Regions from separate parts of the Homo sapiens genome. Here region 1 is linked to region 2. The links come from fine-mapping of genetic effects on gene expression. A gene starts in region 2. The other region holds a variant in brackets. All regions are shown on one strand. Distances are between the middles of the regions.

What was found. PIP is the estimated chance that this variant, and not a neighbour inherited with it, causes the effect.
Region 1: its variant is fine-mapped to the expression of JAZF1 in whole blood (INTERVAL, PIP 0.97).

Annotation. Positions count from the first base shown.
Region 1 is chr7:28,212,496-28,221,419 of GRCh38, forward strand. JAZF1-AS1 (JAZF1 antisense RNA 1) reads left to right here. Exons shown (of 4, transcript NR_034097.1): 3 at 4,748-4,854. Among named protein-coding and RNA genes, the nearest start is that of JAZF1, 36 kb to the left of the region's middle. The variant G/A (reference allele first, on the strand shown) is at 4,126.
Region 2 is chr7:28,175,408-28,184,331 of GRCh38, forward strand. It overlaps JAZF1 (JAZF zinc finger 1), which reads right to left and starts at 5,388. Exons shown (of 5, transcript NM_175061.4): 1 at 5,056-5,388. The coding sequence starts at 5,170. It overlaps JAZF1-AS1 (JAZF1 antisense RNA 1), which reads left to right and starts at 5,050. Exons shown (of 4, transcript NR_034097.1): 1 at 5,050-5,132. RefSeq lists enhancers at 3,607-4,108, 4,109-4,608 and a silencer at 4,463-4,582.

The DNA.
Region 1 (8,924 bases), 37 kb after region 2:
TGTGGTGGTGCCCACCTGTAGTCCCAGCTACTCGGGAGGCTGAGGTGGGAGGATGGCTTGAGCCTGGGAGACAAAGGTTGCAGTGAGCTGAGATTGCACCACTGCACTCCAGCCTGGGCAACAGAGAGCCAGACCCTGTCTCAATAATAATAATAATAATAATAATATGTTATTTTTCAGACTCAAAAAAAGCAGAAGCAAATTGTGCTTTTGCTGCACCAGCCCTGAAATCTGTCTTTCTTTTTTTCTAAGATCTCTTCTGTTAGTGGAAAATGGTTTCTAGAAATCTGTAAGCTATGTAGGCTTACTGCTATTGGCCTATTGCTGCTTCCAGGATCTCTCAGTGGACAGAACAAGGACAGAACATTGAAACATCTAGATTCATTTTTATATCTATCTAATTATATATATATATATAAGTTTATAGCAGTTCCTCCACTTCAATTCAAACACAATCGTTTCACCTTTTCATATTTAAAATTCTCTTATCAGGCAGCAAAGGAACCCGGCTGCATAATCCTCAATATACAGTTATCCCTTCATATCCATGGGGAGATTGGTTTTAGGCCGTCCCAAGGATACCACAATCTGCAGATGCTAAAGTCCCTGATCTAAAATGGCATAGTATTTGCATATAACCTAATCATATCCTCCTGAATACTTAAAAAATTATTTTGGAGACACGGTCTCTCTCTGTTGCTCAGGCTGGATTGCAGTGGTGCAAGCATGCCTCACTGCCATCTCAACCTCTGGAACTCAAGCAGTCCTCCCACTTCAGCCTGCTGAGTAGCTAGGACTACAGGCATGTGCCACCATACACAGTTAATTGTCTAAATTTTTTATAGAGATGGCATCTCACTATGTTGCCCAGGCTGGTCTCAAACTCCTGGCCTCAAGCAATCCTCCCCTCTCAGCCTCCCAAAGTGCTGGGATTACAGACATGAGCCATCATGACCAGCCTGTCTGAATACTTTAAATCATCTCAAGATTACTCATAATACTAAATACAATGTAAATGCTATGTAAATACTTGTTTTACTATATTATTTGGGGAATAATGACAAGGAAAAAAGTCTGCACATGTTCAGTGCAGATGTTGTTTAAAAAATATTTTTGATGTACAGTTGGTTGAATTCACAGATGTGGAATCTATAGCTAGGGAGGGCCGACTGTATTTATTTGTTCAGTCCCCCTGTATGCAACAAATCCTTCAGCCTGCTGGGCCACCACCCACTCAACTACTTTCTAACTTTCCTTCTTCTTGGGCATCTCCAGTGATTTTTAAAATGAGTGATTAAGTAGAAAGGAAAGAAAAAAGTAGTGAGAAAAGGAGGAGGAAAAGAAGAGAGAATAAAAATAAAGAAGGAAGGATGGATATTAATTGTTAATATTGATCATGGAAAAGCATGTGAGTAGAAAATTCATGAATTAGGGAAAGAAAATACAAACTTAGGGATCTGCCTGGTTGAGAAGGTAGTTACTAGGTGAGACTAGGTTGTGCTGCAGTAATAAACTGAATTTTAGGTGATAAAGACCCTAAAATCTTAGTGGTTTAAAACAATGCATGTCATGAGTGGCTCTGCAAGGTAAGTGCTCTCTGTGGGGTGCTCAGCGCTCCAGTGTGCTTTGACCTCATCATCCCTCTGTCTTAAGATGTTACCATTGCCATCCAAGCCTTCAGGGATCACTGAGGTGGGGGAAGAGAACATGTGACCAGCTCTTACATACTTCCTCATGGAAGAGACACACATCAATTCTGCTCACTATTTATTGGCTAAAGAGTCAGGTGACCACTCATAATTTTAAAGGGGCAAGGAAGAATAGTCTTCCCACTGCCCATAGTAGCAGAACAGAAAATGCTGGTAAGCACAGGGATAGTTACCACAAAAGCTGTTTTCTCCCAACTGTTAGGAAAAGCTAGCAATATTGAGACTATTCAGAGTCATCTTTTTTTTTTTGTAAAAAAATTTTATCATGTCCCCTTTGCCATAAATATTCTTGAAACCCAAGATAATTAAGATAAAGGTCACATTATAGATACCAAGAAAATCATCTGAAAATTATTTACTTTGACTTTACATGGAACTGAAATCTGAATTTAGAGATGGTTCACATCGTTTCCACTCTGAAACACTTTTTAGTAAAGATTGAAGTCACTGATTCTAGAATAGGGCTGCACATTAGAATCACTTGTGGAGATTTATAAAAATTGCTGCCTGAATGAACCTTGTTCTTGGAGATTCAGATGGAATTGGCCTGGGTGGGGTCTAGACAGCAGTAGTTTTTAAAACTCTCCAGGTGAATCTAATGCAAAAGTCAGGCTTGGAATCTCTGCTTCTAGCCCTGACACCATTGTACTCCCACTGGTCCTTCAGCCTGCATGTCACTTCCTCAAGGAAACCTCACCAACTCCTAAGTCTAGTGATGTGCTCCTATGTCTCTCTATGCTTTCTGTCTTATTCTCTTTGGAGATGGAGTCTCGCTCTGTAGCCCATGCTGGAGTGCAGGAGCACGATCTCAGCTTACTGCAACCTTCGCCTCCCAGGTTCAAGCAATTCTCCTGCCTCAGCCTCCCAAGTAGCTGGGACTACAGGCGTATGACACCATGCCCTGCTAATTTTTTTGTATTTTAGTAGAGACAGGGTTTTACCACGTTGCCCAGGCTGGTCTCCTGAGCTCAGGCAATCCACCTGGCTTGACCTCCCAAAGTGCTAGGATTACAGGTGTGAGCCACCGCATCCGGACTTCTGTTTTATTCTTTATCACACTGTGCTCTGTTTGCCTGGATGCTTTGCTATATTTAGCTGTAAGCTCTATAATGGTAGGGACATGTGGTCTTCATTTTTTGAATGCACAGTCCCTGACATAGATGCCTACCTAACACATAGTAAATGCTCAATTAATGTGCATTGAATAATTAATACATAATATTGGATTTAGAACTTTCTTTATATTGCTTCCTGTTCCAGTGTAAAGCTTGGAAGGACAGACATAGGGTTAGGAAATTAGTTTATTTGGATCCTTTATGAATAACTGATAGATATGGACCTCTTTTAAAATGATCCCGGACTATGTACACAATGAACATTTGTAAGATGGAGTAAAAGCAGAAAGTAGGCTAGGTGCAGTGGCTCATGCCTGTAATCCCAGCATTTTGGGAGGCTGAGGAAGGCAGATGGCTTGAACTTAGGAGTTCCAGACCAGCCTGAGAAACATGGCAAAACCCTGTCTCTACAAAAAATATTTACAAAAATTAGCCAGCGTGGTGGCACACTTATGGTCCCAGCTACTCAGGGGACTGAGACGAGAAGATCACTTGAGCCCAGGAGGTTGAGGCTGCAGTGAACTGAGATTGTGCCAACGCACTCCAGCCTGGGTGACAGAGTGAGATCCTGTCTCAAAAACAACAAAACCAAAAACAAACAAACAAAACCCACAAAAATGGCAAAATAAACAACAACAAGAAGCAAGTAAACATTTGATGCTTTTCAAAAATGATTGTTTGAACTCATTTACAGGTTAAATACACTGGGAAATTTTCTTAAGATAATCAGAAATGGCTAATCTATTTGCCTAAGCATGTTGTAGCTGTATGCCTTTAGATAATAATTATAGTGCCTGCAAGGTAAAGGATAAACTTCTCTGTTATTCAAAGACCTTTGCAATCTCTTCCCAGCCTGCCTTTCTAACTTCTCCCAGCTGAGTGAAGGTGGAAAGAGAGTACATTTTGAATTCAGAAGCCTCAGAGTCAAATTGCTGTTCCACAGTATTCTATCTGAGAATCTTAGGCCTGTTTCTTAATTTCTCTGGGCCCCAATTTCTCCATCTGTAAAACAGGGAAAAAGGAGCTACCTCTCACAATTGTTTTGAAGGTTAAGATATTGCATCTGATGGTGCTTTGTAAAGTGCAAAGCCCACTGCAAACAATTCTTAATATTAGTTGCCAAACAGAGTTACTGATAGGTGTCACACTTTAGATGAGTACCTGAAGTTTCTCAACCTGGCGCCTTCCCCGGCTGAGAGTACTTTTTCTTGTCATTCTATCTATCCAGTTTTTATGCTCAGTAGTTATTAGTCTCCTTCCCTCCCTTCTTGAATTGTTATTTCTCAATACGTCTGGGCAAT[G/A]GAACTCAAGCCGTGATGCAGTGATGGGAGGAAGATGCAGCAATGGATTGTCTTTTCTGTGGCACTGCAAGTGGAGAACAGGGTAGGAAAGAAACAGTAATGCCTGCAAGCATCTGCTCACTAATCTCAAAAGTGCTATTTACTTTTAATTATTTATTATAATACTTCAAAGCATATTTTGTAAAATTAATAAAGCCTGAGTAATTTGAAACCTCTCCATTTAGCTTGCCAATACATCTTTGCTGAGAAATGCAGTTGAGTGGAATTCTGAGAGAACGATTTGATCTATGGGCCAGGGACAGAAGGATTACTGAGGATTTTTATATGTTCTTAGAATGCCTTTCTATTTCAGGAGAAAAATAAAACAAACATAAAGCAAACTCCACTTCATAGAAGCAAGCCAAGTTATACCAGAAAATCTCTTATTACTTAGCGAAAAAGAGAATTTCTACTCTAAATCACACTCCTTATGTTTACATATATTAAATATAGAATGAAAAGAATTTAGAAAGCAAAAACAATGTTTATAAGTGAACTTTTAAAATCAGACGCAGACATGTAAATGAAAATGTTACCATTGTATGAGGACCTATGTTAATTTTTGCATAACGTTTGTTTCCAGGGGTTCCTGTTGAGATTAAAGTAAATGCATTTACCAGCATACATGTCATGGAAGACTGACTCTGCACCATGCTCTGTGACAAAAGGCTTCAAGATTAAACCGGTTTGGTAAATCCTCTTCTTGGAGATGCACAATGCATGTCTGCCTATTAAATCTCTGAGTGCTCCAGCAGTAGAGATCCTGTTGAAATTTAACTTTGTTGTTCTTAAATTTCCTTGACTGTGGAGCCTTTTAAAACAATTATTTCACCTATTAACAGCTGAAAACATGCTGTCCTTTGGAGTACTTCTTGGGAAGCTCTGAATGACGTCAATTAAATACATTCACTTGCCCCGCTCATCCACAGTGTCCTTTCTGGAATGGCCTTGCAATAACAGTTAGGTAAAATTTTACATAAAGCATAATGTGCTTTAAAACTAGTCATAAAAGGATTTTTCTTGGTAAGAGCTTTATTGGGATATAATTCATATAACATACAATTCACCCATTCAAAGTGTACAATTGCATGGTTTTTCGTATCTTCACAGAGTTGTGCAAGCATCCCCATGGTAAATCTTAGAACATTCTCATCGCCTCAAAAAAGAAAATTCATTCGTTTTAGCTATGATCCCCTATTCCTCTATCCCTCCACTCCACCCCTAAGGAGCAACTAATCCATCTTCTGTCTTTATAGATTTGCCTATTCTAGATACTTTATGTAAATGGAATCATACAGTATGTGGCCCTTTGTGCCTGGTTTCTTTCACTCAGCGTAGTGTTTTCAAGGCTTTCATGTTATAGCATCTATTAGTACTTTACTCCTTTAAAGTTTTAAAGATGGACAGAAGCCCAGGAAGGTAAGAAAGTAAAGAAGGGCAGGGTGGTGAGTTGGTGCCCTGGGGATCCTTGAGCTTGACTAGGATAGGAAATGCCCTGCCTGGGAGAGAAATGCCATATTCTTTCCTTTCTTCCATAACTTCTTATGGTTTGGGCTCCAAATCTTTTTACACACACAGAGTTGATCTCCTTTGCAAAATCTGCTTCCTGAAAATTGCTGGTGGATCAACACTGATGCTTTTCTTGGATATGAGGGCCACAAGGCTTGCACCTGTTTCTCAAAATGAGTATCTGAAGTTTGAGACGCTTGTATTTGTTTCCTGCTTATTTTACAGACTTGAAGAGGGAATTTCCAAGGGGATTGCATGGCGCTTCAGTTAAACCTTTGAAACCCCATCTCTACTGAAAATACAAAAAATTAGCCAGGCATGGTGGCGCATGCCTGTAGTCCCAGCTACTCGGGAGGCTGAGGCAGGAGAATGGCGTGAACCCGGCAGGCAGAGCTTGCAGTGAGCCGAGATTGCACCACTGCACTCCAGCCTGGACGACAGAGCGAGACTCTGTGTCAAAAAAAAAAAAAAAAGAAAAGAAAAAGGAAAAAATGCTGCTTCTCTCCTGAGGCAGCTACTAGAATCATTGTAGGGATATTGCATTTTGTAAAAAAGCTCATAAAAGTTTTCAGCAGTTAGCTCATAAGAGCTCTGGAGGTGAGAAGAGTTCTTTTTCCTAACAGAGTAGGTGAGTCAGGGTCTGGGTACAGAATTTATCACCCCGCCAATGCTCTTCCCAAGAGGAGAAAAAAATGAAAAAAAAAAAAAAAAAAAGAATGTGAATGTTCCCAAGCGCTCGGGATTAAGGTTGATTTAATCTGGTTGCTTCTATTTTGCCATGTTGTGACTTTCACGTGCATCCCATTGCCTGATGCTTATAAATGATGGTTGCGCATAATGTCCCATCTTTTGGGTGCAGAGTTCAAGGACCCTGAAACAGCTGTAGGGGGTGTTTTGGACCCTGGTCTAGCAATGGCCTCAGAAGATTCTGATAGAGGTTTGATTGGTCACTTTACAAGGAACACTGGTCTATACTTAGTCTCTGTTACATGCAGGGAAATATTGATTCTGAGGCATTGAAGTCACAGAACTTAAGATGCTTTTATCCACTAATTCGGCCAACGTTCCTTGAATGCTGCTGTTTCTACACAATAGGGATATAGCATTAAACAAGACAGTCCCTGCCCTCGTGTAGTTTATAATCTGGCTCAGATTCCTCTAAATCAGAATTGTCTAATGTTTCTTGTGGATGCTGTGAAATGATCAAGATGTCTCAAATTAACTCGTTTCTGACCTGAGCTCCCTAGACAGACCCCGCATGAGCAGGAAGAAGCATTCTGTGCTATGTGTCAGCCACTCCTTTGGATGTGTCACATGCCTTTCTTCTTTCATCTTCCTGACAAGCCTACAGGTAGGGTCTTGTTACAACTCTCTGGTGGAAGAAGTTGAGGCTCAGCAAGGTTTATTAAGAGACAGAACCAAGATTGACTCTAAGACTGTCTACCTATTCTCTTTCAATGAATCAATGCTACTCCAACAAACTGAAACACTTTGATATTGACCCCAAATTCAAGGGATGCCCAAAGGAGCACTAACAGGTGACAACAAAAAGTGTGTTCAATTCAACAGTAATAACAGAAGGCATTTTTGTGCCTTGAATCCTGTAGCGTGGTGGAAACAGCATAGGCTTTGATAAATCAGTGAGGATCACATTAGTCTCCAATCAATTAAAATTCCAAAAATAGAGGCTTAAGATTTAAAAGTATTTTCCTGTAAAAGGTGGCATGTAATTCCTTGGTCTTCAGGGTCAAAGGCTCTTCCAGCTTTCTGTTTCCTTATCCTCATTGTCCAATATGGCTGCTAGAGCTCCAGATATCACATCCTAGTTCCAGGCAGCAGGAGAAGGGAAAGGCTGAAAAGGGGCATTGCCCCTTCCCTTTGGAAGACTTCTCAAATGTTTTACATAATACTTTAACTTCCATCTCCTTGGTTAGAACTTAGTCACATGGCCAACCTAGCTACAAGGAAGAATGGAAAGTGTGATCTTTTAGCTGGAGAGCAGTGTACCCAAATGTGAATTGAGGTTCTGTTACTAAGAAGAGGAGTCTTGTTACCAGGAGGTAACTAACAGTCTTTGTTGTAATATATTCTATGCTTTTTAATTATATGGTAAAATCTTAGCTACAGCTTATTAACTGAATTGATTGCATTTTTTGCATTCACTCGACAAACACTAATTGATGCCTACTGTAGGTATTGTGTTAAGTGCTAGGGATGCAAAGACCAATAAGACACAATAGGAACTCGATATTATCAAAATAAATATTAAGGGTGATGACTAAGGGATGCAGGGTTTCTTTCAGAATTCTAAAATTGATTGTGGTGATGTATATACAACTCTATAAATATACTACAAATCATTGAATTGTACACTTACATGGTGAATTGGATGATATGTATTCTATCTCAGTAAAACTGTTTTAAAAAGACAATGTGTGCCAGAGTAGAAAGGAGTCTGTATGCCAATGCTTAGGAGATTCGTGTCAGTGCAGAGAATGGATTAGAGCAGTGGTTCTCAAAGTGTGTTCCTGGACCAGCAGCATCCGCCTCACCTGGGAACTTGTTAGAAATGCAGCTCCTCAGGCCTTACTCTTCATCTGCTCAGTCAGGAACACTGGGGGTGCGAGCAACAATCTGTGATTGAACAAGCCTACCAGGGGATTCTAATGCACGCTCAAATTTGAGTTTCTAGATTAGAAAATATGAAAGGACTGAAGGAGAGCATTTAGGATGTTACTTCAGTGAACACCAGTGAAATGACAGTGAACACTGGTGACACTGAACACTGGTGGCTTCAAGTAAGGATAAAGAGACAGATGTGGAATTATTAGCTATAGCTGGAAACACTTCTAAAAGGGTCTTAATATACTTAACTATTAAAGTGATGAATCAGGAGGTAATGGCCAAAACTGATGAAAAAGAACTAGAAGTCTATGTAAGCATATAATGAAGGTAACCTATAAAGGAACTAGAGTGATAGTCATTAACATTTTGGAGGAGGGTAGAAAAAGAATAATGAAAATGAATGACGTTTTTGCCTTTCTGGCAATCTCTTGAATATTCTTGAATCTTTTGAACAATAATCTCTTAAATTGACAAGTAGATTTTTGAAAAAATATATAAACTTATTATGTAAGGAAGAACTAAACCCAGAAATGGTTAGGTTTCCTCTGATGAGGTGGCCAGGGTGGAGCTTTTAATTATCTGCCCTCCTGCACGTTTAAAAAAGTGCAAAAATAGAATGTTTATTT
Region 2 (8,924 bases):
TACACAAATGGCAAGAAACTAGATGATGTAGACAACTTATTATTGTAGATAAACACTTCACATATATTATCTCACTTAATCCTCACTAACCACTCCGTGAGATGGATGCTGCTACTATCCTCATTTTACAGAGGAGGCATAGTACGGTTAATTTGCCCCTGGTCATAAGGGGGACAAGTGGCAGACATGTGTGTTCAACTCCAAGCAGGCTGGATTCGCTATGCCACTGCTCAGATGACCTTCATCTCGAGTTCAGTTACTTTCTAAAGGAGGAAACAGAGTCAATCGTGTGAGGGGAGGTGAGGAGGGGACTGTCACGTTCTTCACCTAATTGGCAACTGGCATAGGCTTAGCTTTGCATACCTGTCTGGAATTCAAATCTCAAATCATACACATCAGCCACGAAAGCTCAGGCAATTATAAACTGTACCTTAGTTTGCTCACCTAAAAGTGGGAGTAATAAGGACCTATGACATATTGCACAGCTTATCTATTTAGTACACTGTGATGCTCCTTTGAGAAGATAATGCAAATATTTACTAAATCATCTTAGGAGCTAAATTCTACAGTTTTGATAGTAAGTGCCCTGATTTTTTTTTACAGAAACTTTGACCTTTATTAATTAGACGGTTTATAAATCTATACTATGAAATGAAGCACTGTAGGTTTATTACCTGGGTTTTGGAGATGAGGAAACTAACAAGTAGAGACTCACAACAAGAAACCTGTTGATATTCGGGGTCAGGAACCAAGTCATAGCTAATGCAAGCCATTCTTGGTCAATGAGACTCTGCCCCTTAACTGGGCCCTTGCAGGGAAATGTTTCAATAGCAAAGCTGAGGATCCTAACATCTGAGGAAAGTTCTAAATGACCTGCTAGTCTGGTACGATCACATGAATAACTGAATTGGGTCAGATTCCTGTGTTTCTATTCAAGTGCTGCAGGCCTGCCTTGGGGCCTGTGTACTGCCTGCGCCCAGAATGTCCTCATGACTAACTCTCACACCTCCTTCGAGGTTTTGTCTCCCATATCAGCCTCTCAGCAAGGCCCACCCTGACCAATCTATTTAAAATTCTCATACTTTCTCCTCCCAACCCTCCGGACCCTGATCTAGTTTTTCTCTTTTCTGTATCACTAACCACCTCCCAACATACTGTGTATCACATACCTCAATTGTTTATTGTCTGGCCCCCTATCCTAGAATATAAACTTCCTAAAGAGTGATATTTTCATTTTGTTAACCAAAAAATATCAAGTGCTCATAACTTTGCCTGGCATAAACTAGGGACTCAATATATATTATTACATAAATAAATTCAAAATGCAGAGGTACTTTTAAAAATGCACCAAATAATCAAATAAGAATGATTCAACAGTTGTGTTTCTCAGACAAAAAGCCATACGATTTCATAGCACTGGGATGCAGGGTTGTAGCGGCATTTCATGAGCCTGGGACATGACCTTCAGTGCTAAATTTAGTGCTCCTGGTGTTTCTAAGATTCCCAGTTACCAGTTTAACTTCATCTATCTAGGATGTTCATACCAAGAATGTTTCTACAAACTCAATTATCTACTCAAAATAAGAAGCAAGCAAACCTGGACCTGCTTTTCCCATCTCCATGTAACAGACTCAGACCTATGAATGAATTGATAACAAAATTGATGGAAAAGCACTTCACAGTTGCAGGGCTACGGGATTTCTCGGCAATTTAAATTTAAGTGGGGATGGGGGAGAGTTTTAGCTAGGATATTCAGTGTATACACTGAGACAGGTACTCCAGTACTGAACCAGCAGTGAAATGCAAGAAAGAAAACAGGAACACCGGTACAGCACTCTTCCAGGAGAGAAAAGAGCTAAAAAAGTGGGTGGTGAAAATCACACTTCCCTTGGTTCTAAAGCCCCCAAATCCTTGTTCATTATGGGGAGAGGAAAACAGTTAAAAACAAAAGTTAAGCATACACATATAAGATAACAGAGAGTTATTCTCAACTTAATGCACTTAATTAATCCAAACTAAACATAATACTTTTATAATGAAAAACACAGGCCTTGAAAAATCTGCCAAGCAAGAAACACACCATATTCCCATAAATATTCATTTTATCGCTGTTTAAGGGTTTTTACTAGTGGCTAAAGGTAATAACCCAGATAGGCCCCCAAAATGGAATGCTCACCTAAGCATATCTCTAATACTCACGGTTGCTAAATAACAAGACTGTTGAACAAATTAAAAGCAAAATAACACACCTCTTATTCTTTTCATGAATCTTTTTAATGTAACCACTCACCAACAGACATGAAATCAGTAAGTCAATCATTAACGGTCTCCAAATACTTATAGATTGAATCAAAAACGATAAATACCACATAACAATACCTGTCTAGAACTTTGACTAAATGCTTTATATTTTCACCCATGTCTTTTCATCAGAAGTGTATTTATATGACACTATCTACTAATTGGGATATTTTTATTCTTCTTAAGATCAGTTCTTCTTTCTGCATATAGGGCTGCCTTTGATAGTAAAGGGCCTCTCCCCAGCAGAAGTGTATAATAGTTTGAGCCTCTTCATCCTGGGAATTGCAAGTGTTTGTTCATTTTAACATTTGCTTTTCATAAAGTTTGCTGGTTCAAACTGTTTTCAACTGTGTTAGCCCTGCAACACAGTTCACCTAGGTCACTGCTATTGCTGTAAACTTAATTTTTCCACATTTTCACTATTAAAAGGACAACACTAGCCTTCTGGGAATGAGGTAGCATTACTTCAAAGCTGAGTTTTAGAAAACGTATCAAACTCTTAACCTTCTTTAAAAATGTGTGCAAAATATTAAGACAATTTCTACACTTAAAAAAAAAACCTCATGATTCACCAAGTTTTAAACCATCTCAAACTAAATCCTCAAGAAGGATAACTGTCTTTAACACATTTTAATAAATATAATTTATACTGTCTTTTAACCAGCTTGTCTAAGTAGGTAGGCAATGGGGTAAAATTATTACTCAGCTTATATAAATTATAGTTTATTCTGAAATAACTGTTAGCGAGAATGGATGGGATATGCAATGACAGCCTTCTGTAAGTCAAGAGAAATTATTTATTTATATTACTTATATCATACATATTAATGTATAGCATTATCTATATTTATTTTTTACTTATTATTGGGAGTAAGGGGAAGAACTTGAACTAGTAACATTTCTACCAGAACTTCACAGTACCGGTGTTTTCGCTTTATTTTAAACTAGCCATCATGAAAAATCTGATTTAATACTTTCAAGCACTTTCAGTTATGACTATTCAATCATGATATGAATCAGCAAATTGGTTGCTCCATTAAACTGCTTTTAAGACTACCAAAACTTGCCCAGCTCTTCTGTCATACCTTTAGCAGAGGAAATGGAAGAAGCTATTACAAGGACGCCTGAAAACTTGAAAAGTTTCAAAACCTGGACAATTACTCAACAGCATTTTCCTCTGAAAGACATTTTGTAGACGTTTCCCATGATTATCTCCTATTCCGGATGGCCCATCAAATCACATTCTAAACAGGCATTCAACACTTATTAAGCAGCCACTGTGTGCAGAGACAGCACTATACTAAGCAAAGGAGCATAGGGTTCTGCCTCATTTTATTCCTGCATAAATACACAGCAGTCGTGATTTATTCTCTCAACTTTGTAGAAACGTGAGCTGCATCCACATGGCTGAATCCATGGCATTCATTTGGACTTCCTGGGGGCAATTTACAGGTTCTCTGGATTAGACAGCCCCATTGGGACATCGCTCGGACCCTTCACCTTCTAGCCCACGCAGGACAACTCGCTGGCGTCGGTCACACCTTCCGCAGGTGGTTGGACCGCCTAAGCCAGATGCACCCGGCCCACCTCCCTTAGCAGGGGTTCCGAATAGAAGTGTGAAAATGTGTGCAATGACTTCTGCAAATCAGAGGACTTGTTGAAAGGTCCAGGGGTCCAGGCGTGAAGGGAAAGCAGCCACCCTGCGGGGCGCCCCCTCCCCGGCGTCTCCCGGGCCCGGGGCGCTGCGCAGGCCGCCGCCGATCCCAGGGCGCAGCCAGCGCACCTCGGGCCTAGCACCATTAGAAAGGCAAATCGCAGAGCCGGGGTGCATTTAAATGCCCGGCCATGGGCCCTGGGGGTGTCTCTCCAGCGGGCGCCGCCGCAGGGGCCTCCAGGGCGCGTCGACCCCGGGGCGCTGGGCGCGGCCCGCGGGCGCACCCAAGACCTCAGCCCGCAGCGCCCGGGCGTCCGCGCCAGGCCGGGGCAGGGGAGGGCACCCAGAGCCCCCGGGCCCGCGTCCCCGGCCCCGCCCGGGCCCCTCGGCCGCCTCCCAGGGAGAGGGCAAGCTCCCCGGCCCCCGCCCGCGGCCGCCGGCCCCGGCCCCCTCCCGACGCACCACACCTAGCAACCGGCGCTGACAGGACGCAGTGGCGGCGGCGGCGGCGGGAGGAGGAAGCGGAATGGCTGCCGCGGTGGAGCCACCCCCGCCCCCCCGCTCCACCTCCCCGCGGCTGCAGCCGCCGCCGAGCCCTGACAGCTCGAGCCGGGGCGGAAGCGCCCGGCGGCGTGCAGCGCCCGCCCCCCGCTGCCCTCAGCGCCTCGGGCTACTCCGACCACCCGGGCCAACTAACTCCGCGACCCTGCCCAGCGCCCAGCTCCCGCCGCCCGCCGCGCCCTCCGCCCCGCGCCCCGCGCGCCGGCACTCGGCCCCGCCGCCGCAACCCCGCCGCCCCGCCGCGGCGCTCCCCGCTCCCACCACTTCGCAGCCCGCGTGCACGCCCCTGAGTCCCCCAGCCGCCCGCCCGCCCGCCCGCGGCACCTCGGGGCGCCCGCCCCCTCCCCCACCCGAGCCCGCTCCCCGCCCCCCGGCACCTCGCGCCCCCGCATCCCGCCACCCCCACCTCGGGGCTCGCACGCGCCCTCCCCGCCCTGCCGCCTCCCTCCCCGCCGGCCACCCCTGGCCATTCCGGGGCTCCCCGCCCGGGCAGGAGTTTCCGCGCGCCTGGCACCCCCGCCCACCCCCGGGCCATTTACCGATGTGGTTGTCCTCGATGTGCTCGATGAGGTCGGCCAGGGTGGGGAAGTGGAGTCCGCAGCCCCCGAATCGGCAGGTATTGGAGAAGAAGGAGGCGGCGGCGATGCCTGTCATGGTGCTACATCGAGAGCCCCCCTGGTGTCGGCTCTGCGAGCGCCGGGCGGGCGAGGGAGGGAGGGAGGCCGGGTGGGGTGAGGAGAGGAGGGGCTGGGGGAGGGGGAGAGAGGCGGGGTGAGGGGAGCGGCGAGGACGGGACGGAGGGAGAGGGGGCGAGAGAGATGGAAGGAGAGCGAGGAGCCACCGGGAGGCAGAGGGGAGGCGGCGGCTGCGGCGGCGGCGTCGGGAGCGGCGGGGGGAGGGCGGGGGCGGGGGCGGGGGGGGAAGGCCGCCGCAGCTGGGAGGAGGGACCAGGGCGCGCGGCTACAGCTGTGCGGCCCCAACCTCAGCGCGCGGACCCAGGCCTCACCTGCGAGCCCTGCCACCAACTTTATCTCGCTAGGCCTGCCCTTTACGGCTTGCCATCCGTGCCATCTGTTTGGAGCCTCCTTGGTTATGTATATGACGTTCTTAATACACCCACATCGATTAATTACACCTACCTCCCTGCGAGGAGAACTCAGGGAGTTACCCTGGTCCCTCTCAGGGACATTTTTTTGTACTCAGCCACCTGTCTAGGTGTGACACATTCACAGGGGACCCAGGAAAGGTAATTGTGTGCACCTTCTTCTTTAAACCTTCTTTAGAAAAAGTACACATTCTCCGGAGGTTTGTACTAACTAATTGATTTTAATGAAGCTTTCCCTCTAGGCCAGAAAAAAATCTTAGCTTTATTTAAATTTCAAAATAGAGTGCTTGGTTGTCAAGTGCATTTGCCTGTGTTTTACATATGTGCCACGTTTTTTATACTCCCTGCTCCTTCTAGGAAAACAAAAACTAAAATAATTTCATCACCCGAAATTACAGCACCCTACTGCACCCACTCCACCATCTCAGGTCTGGTAATTAACCCATCCTCGTTTCAGCCACTGCAGAAAGGACAGTGCATTGGTTAAGGCTAGAAGGAGCGGAAACAACGGCAAGGGACATAGTGACTCTTCATTTAAAAAGGAAGCGATTTCATCCTGTGAGCATTTAAAGCATAATGTTGACCAGGTAACCACTTAAGGTGAATTTAGTAGCTTCCCTGAAAACCAGCATTTTGCTGAGAATCAATTACTTTCTTGTCCCCACCCCCTCCTCCAGTTGCAGTCATATTTCTTCTGTAAAGTGTGTATTTTCCAGTAGCACTTTTCCAGGTGTCTAAGAAATATTACACATTATCAGCAGTTTATGACCCAACAGTACATTTTTTTTATTAATATTAATATATGCATACTGAATTTAGCATTTTTCCTTAGGGCAAATTTCACTTACCCTCTGGTGCAGATGCATGGAGAAATAGTATTCCTCCCTCCATAAACTCTATGCATCTCTGTCTAGTGTTATTTCTAATAATGGGATTGTTTGCTTTTCATGTAAGTGCTTAGAGTAAAGGCACATGTAATATGTCTGTTGCTACAGGAAGTTTTATGATCTGACCATCACCGGTGGCATTTTCTCTTCTCATCTCTTCTGTCTTGCAGCTCACAAGGTGACAAACTTGCTGAGATGAGATTCGGCTTGGGTGGGGCTGGGGCAGCTGTGTCTTGAAGTTCAGTTTGGTGCCAAGAATGGTTTCATGGGCCCAATGAGGGTGGGGGCAGGGCCCTGGTGGGCCTGATAATGAGCCAGGGACCGAGTTGGCAGGGGACTGAGGCCAAGGCCAGACAAGGGTCTAAAGAGCAGGAGTTAGAATTCTAGATCTTGAATTAGAATTTTGGCAGCTGTGCAGTACATTCAGCTGCCCAATCTGGGAAGGCCTTCAGCTGAGAGCAGGCAGAATATCTGGCAGGCACACACCACACCAAATGACATGGAAATGCAATACAAAACTTCAGCCAAAAATGATGCCAAAACAGCCACCCTTAGAGATGAATGTTAGGCACCCCCACTATGCAGCATCTGGGAGCCCCAAAAGCTTTGAAGAAGTAGCAGTTCTGTCCTCCAGAGGAAAAATTGTCTACGTGGAGTTATTAACTCCCAAGAGTGTGGAGAGGTGGTTCAGGCAAGAGAGTTCCGAGATGGGAAGTGCCAGAAATGTGCAGGTGAAAGATGAAGGAAGTAAGGGGCCTGGGTTTCACTAATGCATGGCTTTCTACTACCTCCTGTCAGTTTCACTATTCCTAAAATAAAACCTTGCTAGACCAAATTGAAAAAAATAGATTTTTTAAAAAATGAAGTGAGCTAAAATAACTTCCAAAGTAAATCAAGATATTGGTTTTTAAGACAAAATTATTTTCTCTACCTTGGATAATTATTACTGTTTTGTAAGGAATCAGTTCATTTTGCCTGAAAATAATCCACCCTACTACTTCTTCATATGTGACTGAAGCTTTGTTTATGTGATGTTCTGCTCATACTACTTTTTAAAAATCTGTACACTCTAGGCATTTCCGGTCTTTATATAAGATACATGATTGTGATCTCTTAGACCTGGAAGATACTCTGGCTGTCAGAACCACTGGTTTTGGAGATGTGGTAAACTGAGGCCGGGGCATCAAGCAAGTTCTCCCAGGTGCACACAGACAGTTTTTTTCTCTGTACTCATGGTGCATTTAGAAGGCATTGATAGACAATAGAAGGACAAATTATATATAGATAGTAACCACAGGCAAAGTTTTTTAAAAATTGCTAATAGCATGCTTACCTTTCTGTACTTATATTTTTAAAATGTTTGTTTCCAGGATATCCCTTTAGATAAAGTCAACATCTAAGCTACAAAAATATATAAAACAAACAATTCAACTTATTACATCCGAGAGAGAAGGTGATGACTGATATACCTCTGTACTGGCAAAAAACATCTGTCTGATTTGGAAAGTAAAAATATTTGAAAGGAGAGGGAAAGTGAGGGAACTGAGAAGTCAGAATGATATGACAGTGGCTGTAGACAAGAAGCATTCTCTGGGTTTAAGAGCCTTTTCTTGAAAACCATCTGTCTCTCCCCAGAGCCCAGTGCCTCCCAATGTATAGGCACAAAGTATGGATGTGCAGTGGCCCCATAATATGGTACTTAGCATTACAAATGGTTTGAGATCGCATAACAGTCTCCCCAAATCCAGCATGTCCAGTGCCCTCGAGATGGGGCAGCTGCCGGAAGGTGTGAATCCACTGGTCTAATGGAGCCAACTGAAGACACTGAGGATCCTGCTTCATACAGCTGTCTGTCCTCCACATACAGGAATTGGTTTATTTTGGCATACACTGATAATCAAAACCGTGCACTTCCTGTGTCCTGTGTGGACATCTGTTAATGATGCAAGAGGATCTATATGAACATTAGATTCTATCTTGAATCTAACTCTATACTGCCTTCAACTGTAGCTTTCTCTGGCTTTTTAGATTGTTTTCCAGGTCCCTCTTGAGGTGCTTTTCAGGTTTACTAGATATTTCTTCTATTGTCACCACTGTGTCGAAGGAGCAGATCATGAACCTTGGTCTTCTTCAGCTCATGCAAGTCTGTGGACGCTTACAATGTCTGATGTTCCCTGGCTCTTGAATGCTAAGGCTGCCACTTCCACCAACAGCAACCTTGGGCTCAAAGGGATGCCTTCTTTTTAGGCTCCATCTTCTTCTAAGGAGGATGATTTCTATTCCAGGTTTTATTGTTTAATATTTATGTAACCAAGTTTTCTGTATTTATTTTATTCCAGCTCAGAAATGAATCAGCTTTATCTGCTCTCTGGTGATTAATTCTCATTTTGTCCCTCAGTCTCATTTTGCCTAGGAT